7 linked regions of the Homo sapiens genome follow. The protein of the gene in region 1 purifies or fractionates together with the protein of each later gene. This does not show direct contact. Each region holds a gene or a part of one and is shown in the gene's direction. Other genes may lie near its edges.

What was found.
Region 2: the proteins of GRPEL1 (region 1) and ITM2C purify together in Homo sapiens (co-immunoprecipitation; one large-scale study listed by IntAct). This does not show direct contact.
Region 3: the proteins of GRPEL1 (region 1) and SUCLA2 fractionate together in Homo sapiens (co-fractionation; one large-scale study listed by BioGRID). This does not show direct contact.
Region 4: the proteins of GRPEL1 (region 1) and TRMT61B purify together in Homo sapiens (co-immunoprecipitation; one large-scale study listed by IntAct). This does not show direct contact.
Region 5: the proteins of GRPEL1 (region 1) and DNAJC3 fractionate together in Homo sapiens (co-fractionation; one large-scale study listed by BioGRID). This does not show direct contact.
Region 6: the proteins of GRPEL1 (region 1) and KIAA1191 purify together in Homo sapiens (co-immunoprecipitation; one large-scale study listed by IntAct). This does not show direct contact.
Region 7: the proteins of GRPEL1 (region 1) and DNAJB4 fractionate together in Homo sapiens (co-fractionation; one large-scale study listed by BioGRID). This does not show direct contact.

What each region holds. Positions count from the first base shown.
Region 1 is NC_000004.12:7,061,730-7,065,064, reverse strand, and holds part of GRPEL1 (grpE protein homolog 1, mitochondrial precursor), read left to right. Parts: exon of another isoform or gene 1-182; intron 183-841; coding exon 842-1,004; intron 1,005-2,598; coding exon 2,599-2,680; intron 2,681-3,335. UniProt on the Homo sapiens protein: Essential component of the PAM complex, a complex required for the translocation of transit peptide-containing proteins from the inner membrane into the mitochondrial matrix in an ATP-dependent manner.
Region 2 is NC_000002.12:230,874,942-230,877,344, forward strand, and holds part of ITM2C (integral membrane protein 2C), read left to right. Parts: intron 1-678; coding exon 679-867; intron 868-1,915; coding exon 1,916-2,026; intron 2,027-2,403. UniProt on the Homo sapiens protein: Negative regulator of amyloid-beta peptide production. May inhibit the processing of APP by blocking its access to alpha- and beta-secretase.
Region 3 is NC_000013.11:47,945,774-47,949,273, reverse strand, and holds part of SUCLA2 (succinate--CoA ligase [ADP-forming] subunit beta, mitochondrial precursor), read left to right. Parts: intron 1-245; coding exon 246-334; intron 335-3,500. UniProt on the Homo sapiens protein: ATP-specific succinyl-CoA synthetase functions in the citric acid cycle (TCA), coupling the hydrolysis of succinyl-CoA to the synthesis of ATP and thus represents the only step of substrate-level phosphorylation in the TCA.
Region 4 is NC_000002.12:28,860,310-28,863,809, reverse strand, and holds part of TRMT61B (tRNA (adenine(58)-N(1))-methyltransferase, mitochondrial precursor), read left to right. Parts: intron 1-2,501; coding exon 2,502-2,692; intron 2,693-3,500.
Region 5 is NC_000013.11:95,760,639-95,764,138, forward strand, and holds part of DNAJC3 (dnaJ homolog subfamily C member 3 precursor), read left to right. Parts: intron 1-40; coding exon 41-160; intron 161-3,004; coding exon 3,005-3,110; intron 3,111-3,194; coding exon 3,195-3,315; intron 3,316-3,500. UniProt on the Homo sapiens protein: Involved in the unfolded protein response (UPR) during endoplasmic reticulum (ER) stress.
Region 6 is NC_000005.10:176,351,765-176,355,264, reverse strand, and holds part of KIAA1191 (putative monooxygenase p33MONOX), read left to right. Parts: exon of another isoform or gene 1-1,693; intron 1,694-1,836; exon of another isoform or gene 1,837-2,516; coding exon 2,517-2,643; intron 2,644-3,500. UniProt on the Homo sapiens protein: Potential NADPH-dependent oxidoreductase. May be involved in the regulation of neuronal survival, differentiation and axonal outgrowth.
Region 7 is NC_000001.11:78,007,939-78,011,438, forward strand, and holds part of DNAJB4 (dnaJ homolog subfamily B member 4), read left to right. Parts: intron 1-3,500. UniProt on the Homo sapiens protein: Probable chaperone. Stimulates ATP hydrolysis and the folding of unfolded proteins mediated by HSPA1A/B (in vitro).

The sequences.
Region 1 (3,335 bases):
CCTTAGAATGGAAAGAGGAGGTTAGTACTGTTCTGTACCAAGTACTGTAACTTGGCACATTGACATGTAAGTTTAGGCATGTACTTACAGAAGATCTTATAAAAAAGACAGGCACAGTGGCTCATGCCTGTAATCCCAGCACTCTGGGAGGCTGAGGTGGGAGGAACACTTGAGCCCAGGAGTTCGGGGTTACAGTGAGTTATGATTGTGCCACCATACTGTAGCTTGGGTGACAGCGAAACCCTGTCTCTAAAAATACATGGAGAGGCCAGGCGCGGTGGCTCACGCCTGTAATCCTAGCACTTTGGGAGGCCAACGCGGGCAGATCACTTAAGGTCAGGATATCAAGACTAGCCTGGCCAACATAGTGAAACCCCATCGCTACTAAAAATACAAAAATTAGCCGGGTGTGGTGACGAGCAACTGGGGAGGTTGAGGTGGGAGTATCCCTTGAACCCACGAGACGGAGGTTGCACTGCACTTCAGTTTGGGTGACAGAGCAAGACTCTCTCTCTCAAAAAAAAAGAAATACATATAGATATAGATAGATGTATAGATAGATAGATATATAGAGAGAGACCAATCCTGTCTCTAAAAAAATATATATATGTTTATCTTAGATCTAATAAAGGCACATTGTATATGACTTACAGCTTTTATATTTACTAATATAGCTTCTATATGTCACGTACAGTGTGCCTTTATTAGATCTAACAGAAATGTTTTCTCCCCAAGTAATAGTAAATAGTTTGAAGCTATTTTAAGTTTCTAAAGTCATACATCTGACTTTAATAAGCACAAAAACTAAGTCTTCGTTTCTCACGTGTGGACTTCCCTGTAGGCCATCTCCCCGGTTGTTGTGCACAGCCACGAAACAAAAGAACAGTGGCCAGAACCTGGAAGAGGACATGGGTCAGAGTGAACAGAAGGCAGATCCTCCTGCTACAGAGAAGACCCTCCTGGAAGAGAAGGTCAAGTTGGAGGAACAGCTGAAGGAGACTGTGGTGAGGACTGTGAGGCTCCTGTGGGGGCGGGCTCGGCTGAACTGTTTCTCTCCTGGGCCACATAAAGGTTCCAGGTTTCATTGGTGACAGACTAAAGCCAGAGTTAAGCCGTTGTCCATGGCCTGCAGTGGGCCCAGGTGGCAAGTTACTGCCAAAGCAAAGACTAAAACCCAAATCCTGTGCAACTCTGGTTCTGGCAAGAGACTAATCTTTACACGCTGTTATTTGTCATTGAATGAAAACTTAAAATCATCTTTACAAATGAGGAATGCTCAGTATGGTTGTTTAGGCTGGGACTTAGGAGAGGAAGCAGAAAATTGCAAGTACAAGAGTTGGGAGCAGGAGTGTGGTTTTATGTGATGCTCTCATAGGCAGGTAGGAGTTTTATGAACTAGTAACATGGATTATTACTCCATGTGAAAACACATAGGTGGCACAAATCAAGTTCTTTAAGGATTTGAGAAAGACATCAAACCCTGAGTGCTGGCACCATTCCAAACCCGTTACATATGTTAATCCTGGCTGCCAGGTGCGGAGCCAGGGCTCGAACTAGAACCCCCTGGACTTGGAGCTCTTGCTCCTTGCCACTGTACAGTGATTACCTGAAGACTGAAAATGGATGCAGTATAGAGGCCCCCACAGAGCAACTTAGTAAATGTTAAAAAGAGAAAAGCTAGCTGGGCGCAGTGGCTTACCCCTCTGATAGCACTTTGGAAGGTTGAGGCAAGAGGATTGCTTGAGCCCAGGTGTTCAAGACCAGCCTGGGCAACATAGTGAGACTCCATCTCTAAAAAAAATTAAAAATTAGCTGGGCGTGGTGGTGCACTCCTGTAGTCCCAGCAACCCAGGAGGCTGAGGTGGGAGAATTGCTTGAGCCCAGGAGGTTGAGGCTGCAGTGAGCCGAGATTACACCACTTCAACCTGGATGATAGAGCAAGACCCTGTCTCAGAAAAAAAAAAAAAAGGCTCAGATGAGTGAGCTTACCGGAAGGTGGTGAGACATGAGGAATATACTAGAACTCAGATGATGATTACACAAGGAATGTTTGAACTGAGCCACCTCTGGGTAACACAGCATAGCAAAAGATCATGAGTGCAGCTTTTATTAAGCTTTCATTAAGCTGCCCTCCTTAGTCACATCTCAAAGGCAGTGATATTACTTCTGTTTTGACTTGTAGTTAGTTACACAGCCGTTTTCCAATCAAGCTCGCTTTCCTATGACTTTGTTCCATATTAATATAAATCTCCCGGCCAGGCATGGTGGCCCACACCTGTAATCCCAGCACTTTGGGAGGCCGAGGCGGTCGGATCACAAGGTCAGGAGATGGAGACCATCCTGGCTAACACGGTGAAACCCTATCTCTACTAAAAATACAAAAAAATTAGCTGGGCGTGGTGGCAGGCGCCTGTAGTCCCAGCTACTCGGGAGGCTGAGGCAGGAGAATGGCGTGAACCCAGGAGGCGGAGCTTGCAGTGAGCTGAGATCATGCCACTGCACTCCAGCCTGAGCGACATACAGAGCAAGATTCCGTCTCAAAAAAAAAGATATATATATATATATATATATATAAATATCCCTTTTTTTCTCTTTTAGGAAAAATATAAACGAGCTTTGGCAGACACTGAGAACTTACGGCAGAGGAGCCAGAAATTGGTGGAGGAGGCAAAATTATACGGTACTTTCAACATAACATGGTGTTGATTCCGGAAAGAAGATAATGGGGTGGGGAAGGGGAAGGCCATGCATACGGAAGTGTCAGAGAGCAAGGCTGTGGGGTGGGGGGTCCAGCTGTTGCATCCCCTGCATTTTTTTTTATGATGGCTCAACAGCAAAGGTGTCTGGAGGAGCAGAAATCAAGTAGCTGAGACTAGCATGAAGAATTGTAAATAGGTGTGTCCTCCCCCACGCAGAGACCTTGGTGGGAACCTGCAGCAGGTCAGCCTCTGATGCCCATCCCCTTAGCCCTCCGGAAGTAACACTGGCATCACTTCAGAACTCCCAGCATGCTATATGCATTGCCACCTTTGGATGTTTTTGTTACTGTCCTTCCCATTTTACAGTTGAGATCATTGAGGTTTAGTCACCTGCCACACATCACAAAGCTGGTACGTAACCCCAGGCTCCCAGCTCCACAGGCTGGTTGTTTGAGTGCTGGCTCTGGATCTCTGCGTGACTGACAGTGGGTATTAGAGATGTGGAACCTAAGGCTCGAGGGAGGGTAAATGGCCTTGCCTGGGTCAGACGGTGAGAGGCCACATGGAAACTAAGAGCTAGAGTCTCTGTCGCATTCACAGAGACTGAGGCGCTCATTGAAACACTTTTTTTCCTGG
Region 2 (2,403 bases), on another chromosome or scaffold:
GGATATCCAGGAAGGGCGATGGCACTTGTCCGAGGCTGGATGTGGAGGTAACCGTGATAGGGGCACAAGACTCTTAACAGTGTTGCCTCCAGCTCCACCTCCCCACCCGCCGTGTTAGGCCCCTCCAGGTCTGCAGGCCAGGACAGCAGGTGACAGGAAAGGCAGTCGTGCACAGGCGTAGGTGCCCAACTCTTAGGTTCGTCCTTGACCCCCTGCCAACCCCAGGCTCTTTCTCTGGTGTCTGCACCTCTGTGGAGGGCACGGAGGTGGCCAGGTCCTAGTCCTGCTGGGCCACCCCTTTTCCCAGTCACCGACTCAAGGACTTGGAGGCCAGAAGGGACCTTAGGGATCATCATGCTTTACTGATGGGGAAACTGAGGCCCAGAGAGGTCTGCCACCTAGAACCTGGCAGACCCAGCTCATCCTCCCTTCCGTTTGTGAAGCTGGGAAGCGCCTTGCCCAAGAATCAGCTCATCTCCTCACTGGCAGCCCCAGACCCTGACCTGATGCCCCACCGTCTCAGTTTCTCCATCTGCGAAATGGGTCTCACAGTCCCTGCTCTTCTTGCTTCCGCAGGCTTTTGGGGCATGTAGCGGACGGGTAGGCAAGAGGGGGCCTTACGGAGTGCGTGTATGACCAGCCTCTCTGACTGTCTGTCTGTCTCTCCGCCTTGCTCAGCTGGCCCGAGATAACTTCTTCCGCTGTGGTGTGCTGTATGAGGACTCCCTGTCCTCCCAGGTCCGGACTCAGATGGAGCTGGAAGAGGATGTGAAAATCTACCTCGACGAGAACTACGAGCGCATCAACGTGCCTGTGCCCCAGTTTGGCGGCGGTGACCCTGCAGACATCATCCATGACTTCCAGCGGGTGAGGCTGGCCAGGGCCTGGGGGTGGGGGGTGGGAGGGTGTCCCGGGGACTCAGGGCAAGGGGAGCAGGGATGAAAGGAGACTCCTCGGAGTACAGCAGGTGTCTACGGTTAGGCTTACCAGGGTCTTCAAGACACTGCTTTTCTCCTGTTAGCAACAATGGTTCTTGCTGAGTATGAAGCAGCCGAGGCTGATTTTCTCCTCAGCCTCCTGCCAGCTGCACGCTGGCTGTCATGGCAGGGCCAGTGCGTTGTATCGAGGGGTAGTACATTCACCATCGAGTGCATTGCGTGTACAGCTCAGCGGGTCTCTGCAGAGTGGGTCTCATGCGTATTCATGTAACCCCCATGGGTCCTGAGACAGGGCATCTCTCGCTGGGGTCCAGGCTGTCCCAGGAATGGCTGGCCCTCACAGGTTTCATAAATGCACAGCTGGGATGTTACCATGTTCCCCAAACCTCAGCTCTGTAAACATGAGAAGAAGCTTTATAACAACAGAGGCGTTTAGCAATCAGCTGCTATTTTCCTCTATCATGTGGCACCTTCTACAACAGGCTAAGAGAAGACCAGGAAAAGGGAGTGCCCGCCCAGGTATTGAGGAGTCTGGAGAGGACTCTGCTCCTGAAGGCCCAGGGTCCCAGGAAGGCATGGTGGGACTCCTGCCCCTGCTGGCCAAGCTGCTTTTTTTTTTGGAGACAGAGTCTCGCTCTGTCGCCCAGGCTGGAGTGCAGTGGCACGATCTCGGCTCACTGCAAGCTCCGCCTCCTGGGTTCACACCATTCTCCCGCCTCAGCCCCCCGAGTAGCTGGGACTACAGGTGCCCACCACCACGCCTGGCAAATTTTTTGTATTTTTAGTAGAGACGGGGTTTCACCATGTTAGTCAGGATGGTCTCGATCTCCTGACCTTTGATCCGCCCGCCTCAGCCTCCCAAAGTGCTGGGATTACAGGCATGAGCCACCGCGCCTGGCTGGCCAAAGCTTCTTGCAGCCCTGCCTGGGTCAGCTGTCACCTCCTGCAGAGACTGACCCAACCCCTTCTCCTGCCAGGGTCTGACTGCGTACCATGATATCTCCCTGGACAAGTGCTATGTCATCGAACTCAACACCACCATTGTGCTGCCCCCTCGCAACTTCTGGGAGCTCCTCATGAACGTGAAGGTGCGCAGGGGGTTGGGGGGATGTCTGCAGCATCCTGTCCCTCCCTTGCCCCCTGTCTCATGGAGGCTAGGTCTGAGGTACAGGAAGTTCCTGTGTCAGGGGTTGGGGGAGCAAGAGACATTGCTGGCACCTGGGCCCTGTACCCAGATTGGTCTCGCCTCTGCTATCCCCCTGCTTCCACATCTCCAGAGTCAATGCCCCGAGACCGGCTTCCTTAGTGTTCAAGGTTGTACCCTGGGTACGGACTCGTGCGCATGCCATTGCTCCTGGCAGCACAGGTGCAGGCACCGGGCACAGGCAGGAAGTGCCTGAGGACATCAGAAGGGCCAGCCCAGGGGCCTCTGGAGGAGGGAGGTGGGCTGGCATTTCGGGCGAGG
Region 3 (3,500 bases), on another chromosome or scaffold:
TGTTGTGATTTGTCTTGAATTCTGACTTGCCTGAATTACTAAGCAAGTCAGAATTATTGTAAGGCAAAATATTTTATAAGATAACCTGGGCTTTTACAGTGTTTTCTTTGGTTTAGAAGTGTTTATACTAAATAATGGAAGTCTCCTCTGTTGAGGTTTTATTCTTATACCATGTTTTGGCAAACATTTTAAAATGCTTTTGTGTGTGTATTTAAAACATTTATATTTGCATAAATCATTTACAGGTACACGAGTCGATGATGCTAAGGCACTGATAGCGGACAGTGGACTTAAAATACTTGCTTGTGATGACTTGGATGAAGCTGCTAGAATGGTAAATTGGCCATGTTCATCTAAGGAGGATTTATAAACACAGATTCTAAAATGAACCTAATTATTAATACAGCTAATAATTTGTGTTTCAGCTAAATATTATGAGTGTAATGAATGGTTAAAGAAAACGATTATTCATGACTCTTGCTGAAAGATGTTAAGGCAGACTTTATTCAGAGGGACTGTTGCAATAAGCATAGAGACTACTGCAGTGGAGTTTTGCAGTAGGGGAGAAAGATTGGGCCCAACTCCAAATACAGCAAGGAAAAGTGGGAATTTATAACCAAGGAAGAGGGTCGGGGCAGTGGATGAAAAATTACTAAAAGGATACATTATGGGTAAGGGAGGATCCTGGCTAAACTGACTTAAGCAAGATTCTTGGTAAAATTGGACTATGCAGGGACAAATACAGAAGTCCAAAAGTTAGGGCCAAGTTGAGAAGAGAGTTCAGAGTAGCCTTTGGGAGGCTGAGGCAGGAGGATTGCTTGAGTCCAGGAGTTTGAGACTAGCCTGGGCAACATAGGGAGACCCTATCTTCACACATGTGCGCACACACACATGCACGCACACACACATGCACGCATATGTATGTATGTGTGTGTATCTATCTATATATTCGATAAATATATATTGAAAAAACAAAAGAGAGTTTGGTCAAGGAGAGAATCTTTGTCAGAACGTCTTATATCTGTGATCATCTTAAACAACGGTCAGCTCCTGCCCAATCTTGTTTGTTGTTTTGTCTGTATTCTTACTTCCTCCCACAACTGTGATTATTTTCAAGCAAATCCCAGACATTATATCATTTCATACATTTCATCATGCATCTGTAAAAGATAAAGGTATTGATAATGGTATAAAAAAATTACTGTTACTTGTTTTAGGTGGGGTAATGGTATTATGGTTATGTTTTATAAAAATACAGTCTGTTGAAATTTCTGAGTCTCTTATATCTTTTGTTTAAGTTCTTTGTAAGGGTCAGAATAAGTCTCTGCATTGTAGTTGGTTAATATGTCAGTAAGTTTCTTAATCTGTTGGTTTCCCCTTTTAAAAAGAAAAGTATTTTCTGTGGTTTATTTGTTGAAAAATCCAGGTTGATGGTCTTGTTAAGTTTCTCATAGTCTGGATTTTAATGGTTGCATCTTTAGGCTGTCATTCATTTACTGTGTTCTCTGCCCTCTCTGTGTTCTCTGCCTTGTGTATTTCCTGTAAACTGGGAGTTCAGTCTGTAGGCTTGACCATATTCATATTTGATTTTGGGGAGCAGGGAACAAGAATATTTCATAGTAGGTGTTTAATTTCATCAAAACGTATACAATGTTAATCTTTTTGTGGTATTACTAGCCATTGACATCATAGCTTAGATCCAGTATTTTGTTTGTGTTGCAAAGCGTTGCTATTGTAATTCTGTCATTCTTCACTTATTATATGTAATGCTTCTAAAAAGTAATACTTCCACGTGTCAACCATTTGTTACCATGGAGTACATTTTGCATAGGAAAAGTAGGATAATTACCTGATTATTTGCCTTTATTGACCAATTTTCAAAATAATGTTTGTTCTATTATGTCCAATAAAGGTGACCTAGGGTTTTTTTTGTTTTTTGTTTTTTTTGTATTTTGTTTACTTTTTGTTTTCAGGTGTGTGTGTGTGTGTGTGTGTGTGTATTGTGCGTGTGTGCATACACATGCATACACATGTGTGTTCCACTGGCATACTGTTTTGAACTTATGACTTAAAACATTGATGTAGTTCAGTTCATGTAAGTTGTGATTGAAATTGTCCAACCTTTGGTCTTTGGGAACCTCTTCAGGTTAACTGTTGCATCCTTCTGAGAAGCCCTCTATCTGGTATGATAAAATGTTTCAGGCTCATCTTTACGTTTCTTGAGTCAGAACTTGAATGGGCCAAATGGTATTTAGAGAGCACAATTTGGCCTTATGAGTATTCATAGATACTGGGTTGATTATTGTTTCTGAGCTTTTTAAGTGGCAAGTCTGAGAAAACATGTATTTTTTAAAGAGGTAATACTTGAGTTCATACTGATATTTTCAATGCAAGTCCAGGAGTATAGATTTTTTTTTCTTATCTGACATCTGTTTGTACCTTCGTTCATGCCATACTATCATAATTATTCATTTGCTTTGTCCCTTAGTACAGATATGACAGTTTTATAATAAGAATACCAACAGTCTGATTACTGAAAGCAATTATATCTGCATTTCTTTCTGTCCTTTAGGGTATGTCCCACAACTTAGTGGATTTTAAAATTCATGTGAAATAATTCTCTGTGTGTTTTGTCTCAGCTTTGTATAGTTTCATTGTTTTTAAAGGGATTGCTTTTTTTAAAAAAAAAAAAACACAACCTTTTGTTTTTTATTTTGTATTTACATGATTCCAAAGTGGAAAGTATAGAACAAGGTATTATCAGGGAATCTAGCTTTTATATATTTCCCTCTTTACTTCTTCCCCAACAGGCAACCTTTTTACCTTTTTTTTTTGTTTGTTTTTTAAGAAAGTTTTGGTTTATCTTTCCACTTCTTAAAAACATAAGCTAATTGTATGTATATAACTATATGTATGTGTGCAGTAGTCCCCCCTTATCTGCAGGGAATGTGTTGCAAGACCCCTAGTGGGTGCCTGAATCACAGATAGTTCCAAACCTGTATATACTGTGCTTCTTCCTGTACATATATTCCTTTGATAAAGTTTATGTATTAGACATAGTAACAGATTAACAACAACTAATAATAAAGTAGAACAATTATAACAATATACCGTGATAAATGTGAATGTGGTCTCTCAAAATATCTTATTGTTCTATACTCACCTTTGTGGTGATAATGAGATGATAAAATGCTTACTTGGTGAGATGAACTGAGGTGAATGATGAAGGCATTGTGACATAGTGTTAGGCTACTACTGACCTAATGATGTAACAGAAGGAGAATCATCTGCTTTGGTTCATCCTGGATCATTGAGCCATGATGTTGATTGTTGGATGTCAAGAGTAGATAATGTTGATGACTAATGGAAGAGTAGTTTATACAGCGTGGATACGCTGGGCAAAGAGATGGTTCACATTCCACTTGGAGCAGGATGGTGCAAGATTTCATCACACTTCTCAGAACAACACACAGTTTAAAACTTAATGACTTTTTTATTTC
Region 4 (3,500 bases), on another chromosome or scaffold:
AAACTCACACCTTTTGTTCTTTGACCTAATGTCTTCACATATGAATATTATCTAGATTATACTAAGCCGGTAAATTCATTCTGGGCTCCTCAATCAATCTTTTGTTTGACTTTTCTGTACATAGTTAAAGGCAGTCATTTTCTCATCATCTATGACAAATTCCTAACTGCACGGTTTCATTTGACAAAGTGGATTTATAAAAATTGGTGAGAACAGATAAGTGCCTATATTTCTAAAATATATAGTATCAGAAGAGTGTCATGGCTTGAATAATCCTAAACTATAAATGTGCAAGAACTTATTGCTATTTACCTATGTGATGGATATTTTTCTCCATATTTTCTTTTCCAGTTGTTTATGTTACTTTTTTTTTTTTTTTGAGGCGGGTTCTCACTCTGTTCCCCAGTTTGGAATGCAGTGGTATGATCGTGGCTCACTACAGCCTTGACCCTCGGAACTCAAGTGATCCTGTCGTCCCAGCCTCCCAAGTAGGTGGGACAATAGGCACATACCACCAAAGCTGGCTAATTTTTAAAGTTTTTGTAGAGACTGGGTCTCACTGTTGCCCAGGCTGGTCTTGAACTCCTGGCCTCAAGCAATCTTGCCTAAGCCTCCCAAAGTGCTGGGATTACAGGCATGGGGCACCACGCCCAGCTTATGTTACTATTAAAATTAATTTTTATCTCCTGAGAACCTGATAACTTGCAGTTGGAGTTACATTTCAAAAGATACCTTGGAATTTAAACTTCATTAGTAAACTGTAAACTGATTGATCTGGGATAATCTCCAAATGGTATCAAATCACTTCAGATAGAGGTGGGTGGAAAGTTAATTGCCTTAAGTTAAAATGTAGTACTCCTCTCTGGAATTGCAGTATTACTGTGCTAATTAGTTTAAAAGTTCTTCACATACACACACACACACACACACACACACACACACACAAATACAAATACCTTTAATTTTTTTTTTTTATTTTTTGGTAGAGACAGGGTTTCACCATGTTGGCCAGGCTGGTCTCGAACTCCTGACCTCAAGTGATCTGCCTGCCTTGCCCTCCCAAAGTGCTGGGATTACTGTGGCGAGCCACTGTATCCGGCCACAAATACCTTTTAAATATATGAAAGACTCAACCTCATCCATAATAAAAGAAATGCAAGTTAAAATTACATTAAAAGGCTGAGCATGGTGGCTCACGTCTGTAATCCCAGCACTTTGGGAGGCCGAGGCAGGCAGATTGCTTGAGCTCACGAGTTTGAGACCAGTCTGGCAACATGGCGAAACCCTGTCTCTACCAAAAATACAAAAAGTTAGCTGGGTGTGGTGGCACACACCTGTCGTCCCAGCTGTTCAGGAGGCTGAGGTGGGAAGATCGCTTGAGCCTGGGAGGTGGGGGTTGCCGTGAGCTGTGATTGCACCACCGCACTCCAACCTGCGTGACAGAGTGAGATCTTGTCTCAAAAAAAAAAAAAAAAACCAAACTCAAAAATCTACATTAAAAATGATAAACTTTATTCACTTTTTAGATTGATACAGATAAAAAGTTCAATAACTTAGGGAGAGTATGGAGATACAGGTATTCTTTTTTTTTTTTTTTTTTTTTTTGAGACGGAGTCTTGCACTGTCACCCAGGCTGGAGTGCAGTGGCGCATCTTGGCTCACTGCAATCTCTGCCTCCCAGGTTCACGCCTTTCTCCTGCCTCAGTCTCCCGAGTAGCTGGGACTACAGGCATGTGCCACAACACCTGGCTAATTTTTTGTATTTTTTTTAGTAGAGACAGGGTTTCACCGTGTTAGCCAGGATGGTCTCAATCACCTGACCTCATGATCTGCCCGCCTCGGCCTCCCAAAGTGCTGGGATTACAGGCGGGAGCCACTGCGACCGGCCTGAGATACAGGTATTCTAATACATTGCTGGTTGGCATATAAGTTGACACCACTTACGTGGAGGACAATGTAATATTATGTGAATAAATTCACATACCCCTTGAGCCAGCAATTCCATTTTTAGGACTTTATCCTGTAGAGATATACTGGCTTGATACAAAGACTTAGGTATAAGAATTTTCATTGCAGTATTGTTTATATTAGCATATGACTAGAAACAAGCTAAATGTTCATCGTAGCCATACAGTGAATATAATGCCTGTTAAAAAAGAATGCAGTACATCTAGAAGCACTGAAATGACATTGGTAAGTAAGAAGGAAGGTACAGGACAGTGTGTATAATACACCACAGTGTGTATTAAAAACACAGAGAGATACTTGGCATGCTTGTATAGGCAGTGACTATCATGGGAAAGGTAAATAGCTGGTAATGTGGTTGCCTCTGAAGAGGGAGGGAGATTAATTGGAGATCAGGGATAGGAGATCAGACTTGTAACATTGAACTATTTGAATTATTTTTTTCACATACATGTAGTACCTTTGCAAAATACATTTTTGACACTTTTTAATAAACTGATTAATATTATGAAATATCAAATTATTTTTTACTTAAGTTGGATCACAAGGACGAGTCATAAGTTTTGAGGTACGAAAAGACCACCATGATCTGGCTAAGAAGAATTACAAACACTGGCGTGATTCATGGAAATTAAGTCATGTAGAAGAGTGGCCAGACAATGTGGATTTTATTCATAAGGACATTTCAGGAGCAACCGAAGACATAAAATCTTTAACATTTGACGCAGTAAGTTTTCTAACGTGGGTCCTGTGTTATTACTTTGACTATAAAGAAGATAGGGGTCAGGCTTCTTTTGTATGGGCAAAGGTCTTCCTTCGTTTGCTTCATGTCTATCTCTAGGGATTGAAAGAATATTTTCGTTTCATGCCTTTTAATCTCATGGTGGGATTTGGGACAGAGAGACATACTGAGTTACCGAGTTGGGTGCTGAAGTTGTCATTGAATGTGGGGTAATGACTGAAAGCTAGGACCAAAGACTAGTTGAGCATCATGAACCTCAGCATTTCTAGGATGAATCATACTTTGGAAGCAGCATTGGAAGCATATTGAACCCGGCACCTAACCTGAACTGTGAGATTTGGGGGAATAAGTAGCTTCCATTTGACAGGGAATAGGCAGAAGGCATCTTTAGTTAGTTGAAGTCAGGATATCAAGGGGAGTGTGTTCATTGAAGATGTCGAGGACAGAGGTGTTTATCATGAACAAAGCTCCAGAAAGTGGAGCAGAGACATTGTGAGGAAGAGAAACACTGGGAAGTTGACTTAGGGAAAAGAAGCAGAGAAGATGAAAGTAAAAAGATAGATGACAAGAGAGGATACATTAAGCTGCGATCAAACATGGTGGAGATCTGGGACATGGAAGTATTTGCTGGCTGAAGAGTTTCAGAATTCCTTGGTGATGCCACTTCACAGTTCATAGCTTCACACTATGGACTGAGGCCTTGGTTAGGAGTCTTTCTTCCTTTCCTTAATTGGCTGCTGGAAGGATGGACTGTTTTGGTGAGAAATGAAGCAAAGTTCAAAGAGGAGAGAAA
Region 5 (3,500 bases), on another chromosome or scaffold:
TTTGACATGGAGTATTTTCCTTTTTTAAATACATGAACAGTGAAGTTCGGGAATGTCTTAAACTTGACCAGGATCATAAAAGGTGTTTTGCACACTATAAACAAGTAAAGAAACTTAATAAGCTGATTGAGTCAGCTGAAGAGCTCATCAGAGATGGCAGGTGAGAATATGGTTGTTCCAACTGTCCAGCCATTCCTTATGTGCGGGGCTGTGGGCACAAGTGAACTACAGAACTGCTCTTTTACTTCTCAGCCATTGAGGGTGGGGTATTCTAGATAGCCCTGGGCCTTAGCAAAACTACCAGAATTGGACATTTTTGGAATAGGGAAGAATATAAATAATAGTAACTGTGTAGTATCCTTACCAGCAGAATTACTTGTACTATACCAAATATTTATTATCTCCTATATCAGGCTGAGCTATGTACTGAGGGTGCAGACTTAAACTTGACAATAGTTTTTGTTCTTAAGAAGTTTATAGCATTGCGTGGGAGACAAATATATGAATTGATTATTAAAAGACAATATGATACCAAAGTGATAGAATGTACATAGGATAATTGGAGTACCAAAGAGGAGTATTTACTCCAAACCAGGATGGTAAAGGCAAGGAGTAAAAGAGGAGCTTTTTTTTTTAGAGAAGGTGATAGATATTTAAATCCTAATCCTAAAGAATAAGTAAAAGTGGACAGAAGTAAGAGGCTGTGTCTGTGTGAGTGTTGTTTGTAGGGGGTTTATAGGCTGGGCAGGAGGACTGAAAAGAGTAGAGGGCACTGCAGACAAAACTGCCTAATAGAAAATAGGCTCCAATTCCTCTACTTTTAGTAGCTTTGTAAGTTGCCATCATGAGAATGCTTCACTCGGTTTCCCCCAACATCTTGCAGACTATAACGCCTTGCAAAACTATAGTACATTGTCACAATCAGGATATTGACGTGGGTGCAGTCAAGATACAGAATAATTCCATCCCAACAAGGACACCTCATGTTGCCCTTATAGCCACACCTACTTCCCTCTTGTTCCTATCCCTTCCTTAGCTTGTGGCAACCACTAATCTATTCACTTGTAGAATTCTGTCATTTTAAGAATGTTACATAAATAGAATCATACAATGTATAAACTTTTGGGATTGGCTTTTTTTTTTTTTGAGACAATCTCACTATGTTGCCCACCTGTTCACAGATACAGTCATAGTACACTCAAGTGATCCTTCTGCCTCAGCCTTCTGAGTAGCTGGGACTTCAGATGCATGCTACCACAGCTGGCAGGATGGGCTTTTTTCCCCCTCATTCGAATTGTCTGGAGATTTATCCATATTGTATCAATAATTCCTCCTTGTTTACTGTTGAGTAGTTTCCATGGTATGGATTTACTGCAGTTTGTTTAACCATTTATCCATTGAAGGACCTGAGGTTGGGAGTTTGAGACCAGCCTGACCAACACGGAGAAACCCTGTCTCTACTAAAAATACAAAATTAGCCGGGCGTGGTGGCGCATGCCTGTAATCCCAGCTACTGCGGAGGCTGAGGTGGGAGAATCGCTTGAACCCGGGAAGTTGAGGTTGCGGTGAGCCGAGATTGTGCCATTACACTCCAGCCTGGGCAACAAGAGCGAAACTCCGTCTCTAAAAAAAATGTTTTCTGTTTGCAAGTCTGTCCTTTTCAGGTCCTCTGGCTAGACAGAGCAGACTTCTGCAGGTTTTTGTTATTGTCGTTCTGTACCTGTTGGCGTTTCTGCATTGCTGGAATCTTCAGCTCCAAGTCTGGGATATATGAAACAAAAAAAAAGAACCCAGGGAACGTCTTACCATGTTTTCCTCAGGTCCTGAGTCACTAGCTAGTCTGTCTCTTTTCCTCCTTTGAAAGTTTTCTATTTTAAAAAATATACATATAATCTCTAGGGTTTTTTAGTTGTGCTTAGCTGGAGCACTTGGGACAAATACATCTATTCCACTTTCCCAGAAGCTGGCTTTTTTGTTTTCTTCTTTAAGTTCCAGGATGTATGTGCAGAATGTGGAGGTTTGTTACATAGGTAAACGTGTGCCATGGTGGTTTGCTGCACCTATCAACCCATTACTTAGGTATTAAGCCCCACATGCATTAGCTATTTGTCCTGATGCTCTCCCTCCCCTTGCTGCCTGCCCCACACAGGCCTCCGTGTGTGATGTTCCCCTCCCTGTGTCCATGTGTTCTCATTGTTCAGCTCCCACTTATGAGTGAGAATATGCAGTGCTTTGTTTTCTGTTCCTGCGTTAGTTTGCTGAGGATGATAGAGAAGCTGGCTTTTATTTTAAATGTTTTAGTTAAGCCTGTGTTTTAATACATTGGCATATTTACATATGAAGATTGTAGCACTTTGGGAATAGTGTGCCACCATGGCATAGAAACATATTTTTTACTTTACTATTGTTGAGGGAAATAACTGAGTATATAACAGGATTAGTACTTTTTACTGGTTTAAAGAAAATGCTGAAATAGCTTTTATTCTTAGAAAGCTTATACAGTTGGGAATTTAATCAGGTACCTTTTGTGTGAACTACGTTGTACTTTGTTGTAAATACTGACATTAATTATATAAAATGGCACGTAATGGGTTCCATTATTTTCATGGAAGTGTTTACTGACCAAGAAATAAAACTTGATCTCTGTATTGTTCAAGGTGCTCAGTGTAAGTCAGACTTCAACAGGGTGTTTTACTCAGGTTTGGAATTCTGAGCAATGTTTCTGTAAGGAAATTCTTCTGGTTTGATTGGTACTTATACTCACAGGTATGCTTTGTTCTGTCCATCTGCATCTCCTATGGTCATATGTTTTTATTTCCTAACTCTTAATTATGGAGTGTACCTTCTATGGGACTCTAGATTAATAAGGGAAAAGCCGAATCTGAAGCCATGGGCTCATCCAATTGGATTGATTAAGCAACACATGGTGAAGAGGGGAGGAGCCTTTCTACAGCTCTGGAAATCAAATGTCATCATTTCTTATCATGATTTGCTCATTTCTTAGATACACAGATGCTACCAGCAAATATGAATCTGTCATGAAAACAGAGCCAAGCATTGCTGAATATACAGTTCGTTCAAAGGAGAGGATTTGCCACTGCTTTTCTAAGGTAACAGTTGACTTGTTCCCAGAAATGTGAAAACTCAACATGTGGAATACCAACCATAAATCCTTGTCTCACATTTCCTTTTAGGACGAGAAGCCTGTTGAAGCTATTAGGGTTTGTTCTGAAGTTTTACAGATGGAACCTGACAATGTGAATGCCCTGAAAGATCGAGCAGAGGCCTATTTGATAGAGGAAATGTATGATGAAGGTAAATCTTTAAGGATTTGATTTGCAGTACCGAAGTGTTGATTAGGAAATTATCACATTTTAAGCTTCCTTTTCCTTAAAACAAATTTACCAGAGTACCTGGAAATGTTGACAATTTTAGAAAAATGGCAGAGAACTTGAAAATTACTCTTCCATAGTGGAACCTGAAAGGTATACCATGTGAGG
Region 6 (3,500 bases), on another chromosome or scaffold:
TTTTTAAATCTCCCTCCTTTTTTTTTTCTTTTTAATTCAAAACTAGAATGGCCTTGTCTGCTCCTGAGACTCTTCATATTCCCCACAGAGCTAAATCCAAGCTCAGCATGATCCACAGTCCATGTGATCTAAGTCCTGCCTGCATCTCTCCAGCTCCCCTACCCAGTGCTTGAACTGTGCAAGTTACCTAAAATTCTTGCACTTAGCAGCGTATTTTCTGCCTGTCAGTTTTTGGCTCACACTGCCCTGATTGTTTAGGATGTTTGCCATCCACATCCTGTCCTCTCACCTTTTCTCCCACTCCATTTGCCTGAAAACTGGTATCCTTTAAGTCTTAGCTCAAAAGTCTCTTCTGTGACAGTTTTCCTGACATCTCCGTCCTCCTGATAAGGCCATCACCTCTCCCTCTGAGCTCCCCACGGTACCATGGTCCCCGTCGTCATCCCTGCATTGCTTTCTCGCCCTCCATTAGCTTCCTGAGGACAGGGGCCATGTCTAGGTTTGTACTCTTATCTGCAGGATCCAGCCGATGGCCTGGCATAGATTCCCAAAAACTGCTCATTTTGTGATTGGGGAAAAAAATTGGCCCTTTCTTGAACACATGCTGTACCTGTCCTCATGCTGTACCTCCAGCCTCAGCTGCCTTTGCCCATGGCCATCCTCTGTAAGAACTGCCTCCTTCCTAAGGCCCTTCCGAACATACCTCACAGTCCTTCGTGCAGTCTAGTTTCGTAGGTTCGCATTATTGGAGCCTCTGCTTCCCGACCTCAGGGACTCTCTCCCCTCTGACTCTCCAGCCACCAAGAATACAAGAAAGGCTAGACTGTTGCCTGAATAAAGTAGGCCCGCCAAGTTCACGTAAGGCTGTTTAACCTGTAGCTACAGTTTCTCTGAACTTTGAGCCACATGGTAGCTCAGGGCCTGACAGGCAGTACACAGTAAGGGTCCACTGAAATAGGCCTGGGTGTGAGTCCCAGGTGGTCTGCCCTAGCAAGACCTTGGGCACACAACTTTACCCTGAGCCCCAGTGTCTCTCTCTGAGAGTTGGGAATACCTTATGTCATAGAGGTGTTGTGGGGATTCAGTCAGGGGATGTAAAGGGTTGGCACATTGTGTATTAGCTGTGTAGCTGATATTATGACTGCAGGCTCCCTGCTTAACTTTCTCTTAGTAGAGCCATATTTGATAATTTCTAAGGAGTGTTTTTCCCCCCGCCTCCAACAGACTTTCAGGGCAGACAGCTCCTTTCTAAGAAAGTGCCCCTACAGCTCTGGGGGATATTCCCTCTATCAATTATCTACTGAAATATGACCCAGTCAGTTGTTCAGGGAGAGTATTCCATGTAACAAGTAGCAAAAGTGCAGGGAGAAAAGGCCTGCTGCAGCTTGCCTGTGATGTCAGAGCAATGGGCTTTAGGGTCCAGAGCAGGAGGTGAGCAGGGCTTCTGGTGGTGCTTGCCAGGCCACACACCCTGCTGATGGCTCCACAAGGCAAGGGATGAGCGGGCTTCCAGATTTCTTCTGGGCCTCAGCTGGAACAGCTGATGGCTTGGAACAGCTGCTCCAAAGGAGAGCTCCGCTTGACTCATTGCATGCGATCCTATTCATTTGCCCTAACTCTCCCCATGTTAGGAATCAACCGTCTTCCCAGTAAGGAAACAGGCTCAAGTTTTACTCAAGGTCACAGCTTAAAGGTATAAATTCTGTTTTGTAGTAAGGATACAACATTTTTCATTACTTTTTATCTGTCCCCCCTTTTCAACCATCTTACTTTCTTCTCAGTTCTTCCAGACAAGCACAGAATAAAGAATAAGTCTTGTTCTCTCCTCCCTGCTAGGCCTGAGCAAGGTATCAGGTGTTTCGATTGCAGAAGGTGGAGGCTGCCAGCTCTTGCAGGTTGAAAATGAGGAGCTAAGTAGATTTTTTTTGTTTGTTTCAAAAGACCATTACTTGAACCTTGGGAGCAGTGGTCCTCAAGGTGTGGTCTTGGGACCGGCAGCATCAGTAACACCTGGGAATTTATTAGAAAGAAATTCTTGAACTCCACCCCAGACTAACAGGGACCTACTGAATCAAACTCTGAGGTGGAGCCCGGCAGTCTGTTCTAATGGCTGGCACAGGGTCAGAACCACTTAGCCAGTGCTCTCATCAATTAAGATCTAGCATAGTGCCTGGGATGTGGTCAGTGCTTCGTAATAAGCATTTCTTCTGCATTCTTAGGGCATAGTACTATAGTATATCGGAAGATCATAGTCTGGGAAGGTAGTAGACGTCAGAGCTTCAAATTCTGGCTTTCCCACCTTTATAAATGTAAACTATTCACCTAATGTCTTTCTTTGTTGTCTCTATGGATAATACCTATCTAGCTGGGTGGAGATGACCAACTCCTCCCTTCAATGATTTCCTCACTTACCAGATTAATGTTATTTCAGTAACTTCCTCCCCAAAGGAGTAAGTTTAGGTGTGTGACTCCCCTGCCCTGCCTAAGTGCTTCTGTACTGTACCTCTCTTGAACAGGTGGAGGAAGGAGAGGCCAGTCTACCCTCCCCTGCCATGACCCTGTCATCAGCCATTGACAGTGTGGACAAGGTCCCAGTGGTGAAGGCTAAAGCTACCCATGTCATCATGAATTCTCTGATCACAAGTAAGCACTCTTCACCCTCAGAGTAGAGTGCCATAGGGGCAGGGAAGAGTTGAGGCTTCCTACAAGCTGATTGGAGATGATACTGCAACACGCTCGCCTTACCTTATCCTAAAAAATGTCAGTTTGGCTGCTGAATCATGTCAGTATTGAAGCTCCATTTATTAAGTGGAAGATTTGCCAAATGTTAAGCATCTTATCTGATTTAGGTGCATTCCTGCTGCTTTGTTGATATGATCTCATGTTCCCAGCTCTGTCACTGTGGCCTTGGGCAAGCTACTTAACTACAGAGACTGCCCCGCTCTAAAATGGGGAATTTCACTGGCAGGTTGAGGTGAGGATCAGAAGGCCCAGTGCTCAGTGGCGGCAGCTGCTGCTGTTACTGTTTCAAGCTCTGCTGGAGAAGGGGAAACATCCGGGCATTTCCCACTTACCCCAGTTTTTGTTTTTTTTTTTGTTTTTTTTTTTTTAAACAGCTCAAAGTTGGTCTACCAGGAAGAGGACCAGGTCCAAGTGTCTTTAGTCTTAAGAATGTATGATTGGTCATCCTAATGAAACCTGATATGAGAACTTGGATTTTTTTTTAACCTTATAACAAGCTAACTAAACTTCTTCATTCTGGAGGGCTGTACAGGTTGCTGTGGGAAGTTAACAATTAGATACATGGCTCTGTTTGTCAGCAGTTGTGCCCCTACCAGGGTAAGGTACATAGAGGTTCTCCTTGGTTGGCTCATTTTTGAAGTCAGAAGCCCTTGTTTATCTTCTCCAGGAGGGCATCAGTTTGTCCTGGGCAATTCCTAGTGAATTCACCAAGAACCAAAGGTCCAGACTCTTACTTTGGTTTCTCTTCTTTTTTTTTT
Region 7 (3,500 bases), on another chromosome or scaffold:
AAACTGAAAAGTATGTAAGTTGCATATGCTAAATTTATGTATTTAGGAGTGAAAGAACCAGTAATCCAGAACACAGTATATTTGTGTTCTGAATATTCACAATTTAAAATGCTTTGTTTTAAAAACAGTTGGCTAGCTGGGTGAGGTGGCATATGCCTGTAGTCTCAGCTAATAGGGAGGCTGAGGCTGAAGGATTGCTTGAGCCCAAGAGTTTGAGTCCAGCCTTTGCAACATAGCAAGACCCTACCTCTAGAAAAAGCAAAGGAAAGAAAAAAAATACGGATAACTCAAATTTACTTTTAGGAATCTATAAAAGGGAAACAAAAACATGTCCACACAAAGACATGTACCTGAATGCTTATAGCAGCATTATTTATAATAGCCCCAAACTGGAAACAATCTGAAAGCACCATAAATTGGTGAATTAAACAAAATGTGCTATATACATTCAATGAGGAACTATTTAGCAATAAAAGGACCAATTTGTGAAACATGCTACACCATTGATGAACCTCAGAAACTATGCTAAATTAAAGAAGCCAGATGTAAAAGACTATATATTGTATGATTTTATTTATGTGAAATGTCTGGAAAAGGCCAGTATATAGAAAAAGAAAGCAGATCTTTCTTGCCTAGGACTTGAGGTGGGAGCGGGGATTAGCTACAAATAAGAACTAGAGAATTCTTTGGAATGATGGAAATGTTCTATAACTGGATTGTGATGATGGTTATACAGCTCTATCAATTTACTATAATCAATTGAATTGTATTTGTACAATAGGTTAATTTTATATATGTAATAAATCTTTTTAAAAATAAAATTTCTCTATAGTTGAATCATTTGAAAACAAAAACCACAGAACTACAGAAATTTAAAATTGGATTCTGAACCACTCTCTAAAGTTTTAGGTTTAGTCTTGAATAGTTTAGTGGATGTCAACAAAAATTTGTGTTAAGAGATTTAAAAGAAAAGATTTTCAATAACACATCCTCATTTATTCTAGTTTTCTAATTTTTCTTTTTTTATGCTTTCCTTATTTTGTTATTGCATATGATTTATTCAGTAACTTCAAATATTAAAAGGTAGTGTTTAAATGATAAAACTTGTATTTATTAATCTTTATACTAGTTCTCTTCTGTTCTTTAACTTATATATTTAGCTAGCTGGATTTTTTTTAATTCACTGTGTGTTCTAAAAACATGTAAGTAAATTTGATTTTTGTGAATTAAAACTGTTTAAAAAATCTCAGAATCTCATTATTTGATAACTGAAGTCTTGCTGTAAATCTGGATTTTTACATATTAGATCTCCTTGGATGGAGTAAGAGTTATTAAAGTATTATCATGTTTTTTTCTTTGCAATCTGAATTTTTCTCCAGTGTTTCTTCTTTTGGAAACTTTTAGTCAACCTTAACTAATTAGTGGGAATCATTGTTATAGATAGTATTCCAAACACATATTTGGTTTGGGACTGCAAACTGGTTGACTGGTTAGTTGTAAAATAATAGCAGTCTTGCTAAATCATAGGCAAATGTTGCTTCTCTGGTGCGTTTTTTGATCACACAAAGTGATGACGATGTCTAGAAAACATTTTGAATAGCAGAGGGAATCCAATTGGATATTAAACATTTCCATTAGCGTTCAAAATGTACATGATTAAGAACTGACCATATAGTTAATGTGACATTACTTATAATTTTATGTGCTAGACAATGCAAGTGATACTTGCATAATAATGTATATTAAAGTGGCATGAATTTTGGTAGGATTTTTTTCTTTTTTTTGTTGTTTTTGAGACAGAATCAGTCTCCTGAGTAGCTGGGATTACAGGCGTGCGCCACCACGCCTGGCTAATTTTTGTATTTTTAGTAGAGACGAGGTTTCACCATGTTGGTCAGGCTGATCTCGAACTCCAGACCTCATGCTCCACCCACCTTGGCCTCCCAAAGTTCTGGGATTATAGGTGTGAGCCACTGTGCCCAGCCTAGGATTTTTTTCATTCATTAGAGTAGCTTCGTTCTTTGTCTGAGCTGCATAGTTGACTGTTTAATAGTGTCTAGGAAAACCTCAAAGCTGCATTGGAGTCTTTTTATCAGCTTTGGTAAGTTACTTCAGACTTTGTATGAATCTTCTCAGAGACTTTGTAATTATGACCGAATTGCCCTTTTTGGCAGAGGAGGAAGAGGTTTTCCAGAAAGCCAAACCCATGATGTAATAAATTAAAACATTATTCTTTCTTTTCATGAATTCATTATGGGTGCAAGTATTTAAATTTTGTCTTATAAGAGGCTAGATTGGGCAGGCTGATTTACCCAGTTTACTTAACTCAGTTAAATAATTATACTCCCTTAAGTCTATGGGATGAAGGATAAAATTATTTAAATAATTTAAGCATTGGTTGAGTCACTTTGGTCATGACCTTGAGCTACATATTATTCTATCATTAAAAAAAAAATCTGCCATTACCTTTTTAACATTTGGAGTTATAATTATACTACTAAAATTTATAAAAGGGAAATTTGGATGAGCTGCTTATGAAAAGATCTTGTCCTGCTTATACTTGTCATTCTACAAGGAATTTCCCTAACTGCTATTTGGATATATTGTTCAATACATATTTTGGCAATTTTCAGATTATTAGGTCTCTCTTGATCTCTCCAGATTTCTATTCATGGATGAAGGTAAAAATTTTAGATATCACTTGAGACCCTGTTAGATGAAATAGAGTAGATATATACCTTTTAATGGAAGAAGCCAAATGCAGAATAAGACGTAAGCAAAACTAAGTTTCTTTAAAGTATGCTGTGTGTTAGTGGCATTTTAAATTGTTAAATCTCTCATATATGTATATGTGTGATTATATTTTACATTGTTTTTGCTTCTGCCTTTTTCTCTGTACCGATACTCAAGACACCTTTTTTAGTTTTGATTTAGAAGGACTTTAGGAATTAGTTCATTCCCTTCATTCACTAAGCATGAATACCTACCATTTTCAGCCCTGTATGCATGAGCAGTGCAAAATAAATATATTTCCTGCCTTCAAATCACTCACTGTTTGGAGATATTAGAATCTCCTAGCTTAATCTGTTGGATTTTTCATAGTTTTATGATTTTTAGATTCTTTTCCTGCTTGTTTCTTGATCTGTATTGACCCCTTAAAAGATCACCATACTGTTGTTTTTTGAGTTTTAGTAGAACATTTCTTTCATAGTGGAAAATGTTGTTTCAAATATAATCTTTTGTGGGTTAAATATTACTTAGTGGAACCCTTAAGCAAAGGGTCAAAAAGTCACTATATTGTTGCCTGAGGTGGACTGTTCACAAGAGACAGAAATAACCCATATAGAGGCCTTACGTGTCAAAGTTTACAGCTCTTGATTTCAGTCTTCTTACAAGCATTGAAATTAATGCTAAGATGTGATATGCCTAAAAAATTTGGTATCTAGAGTAGGAATGACAATCGTAGTGTCTAAAAAACCATTTTTCATAGAATGTCCTCA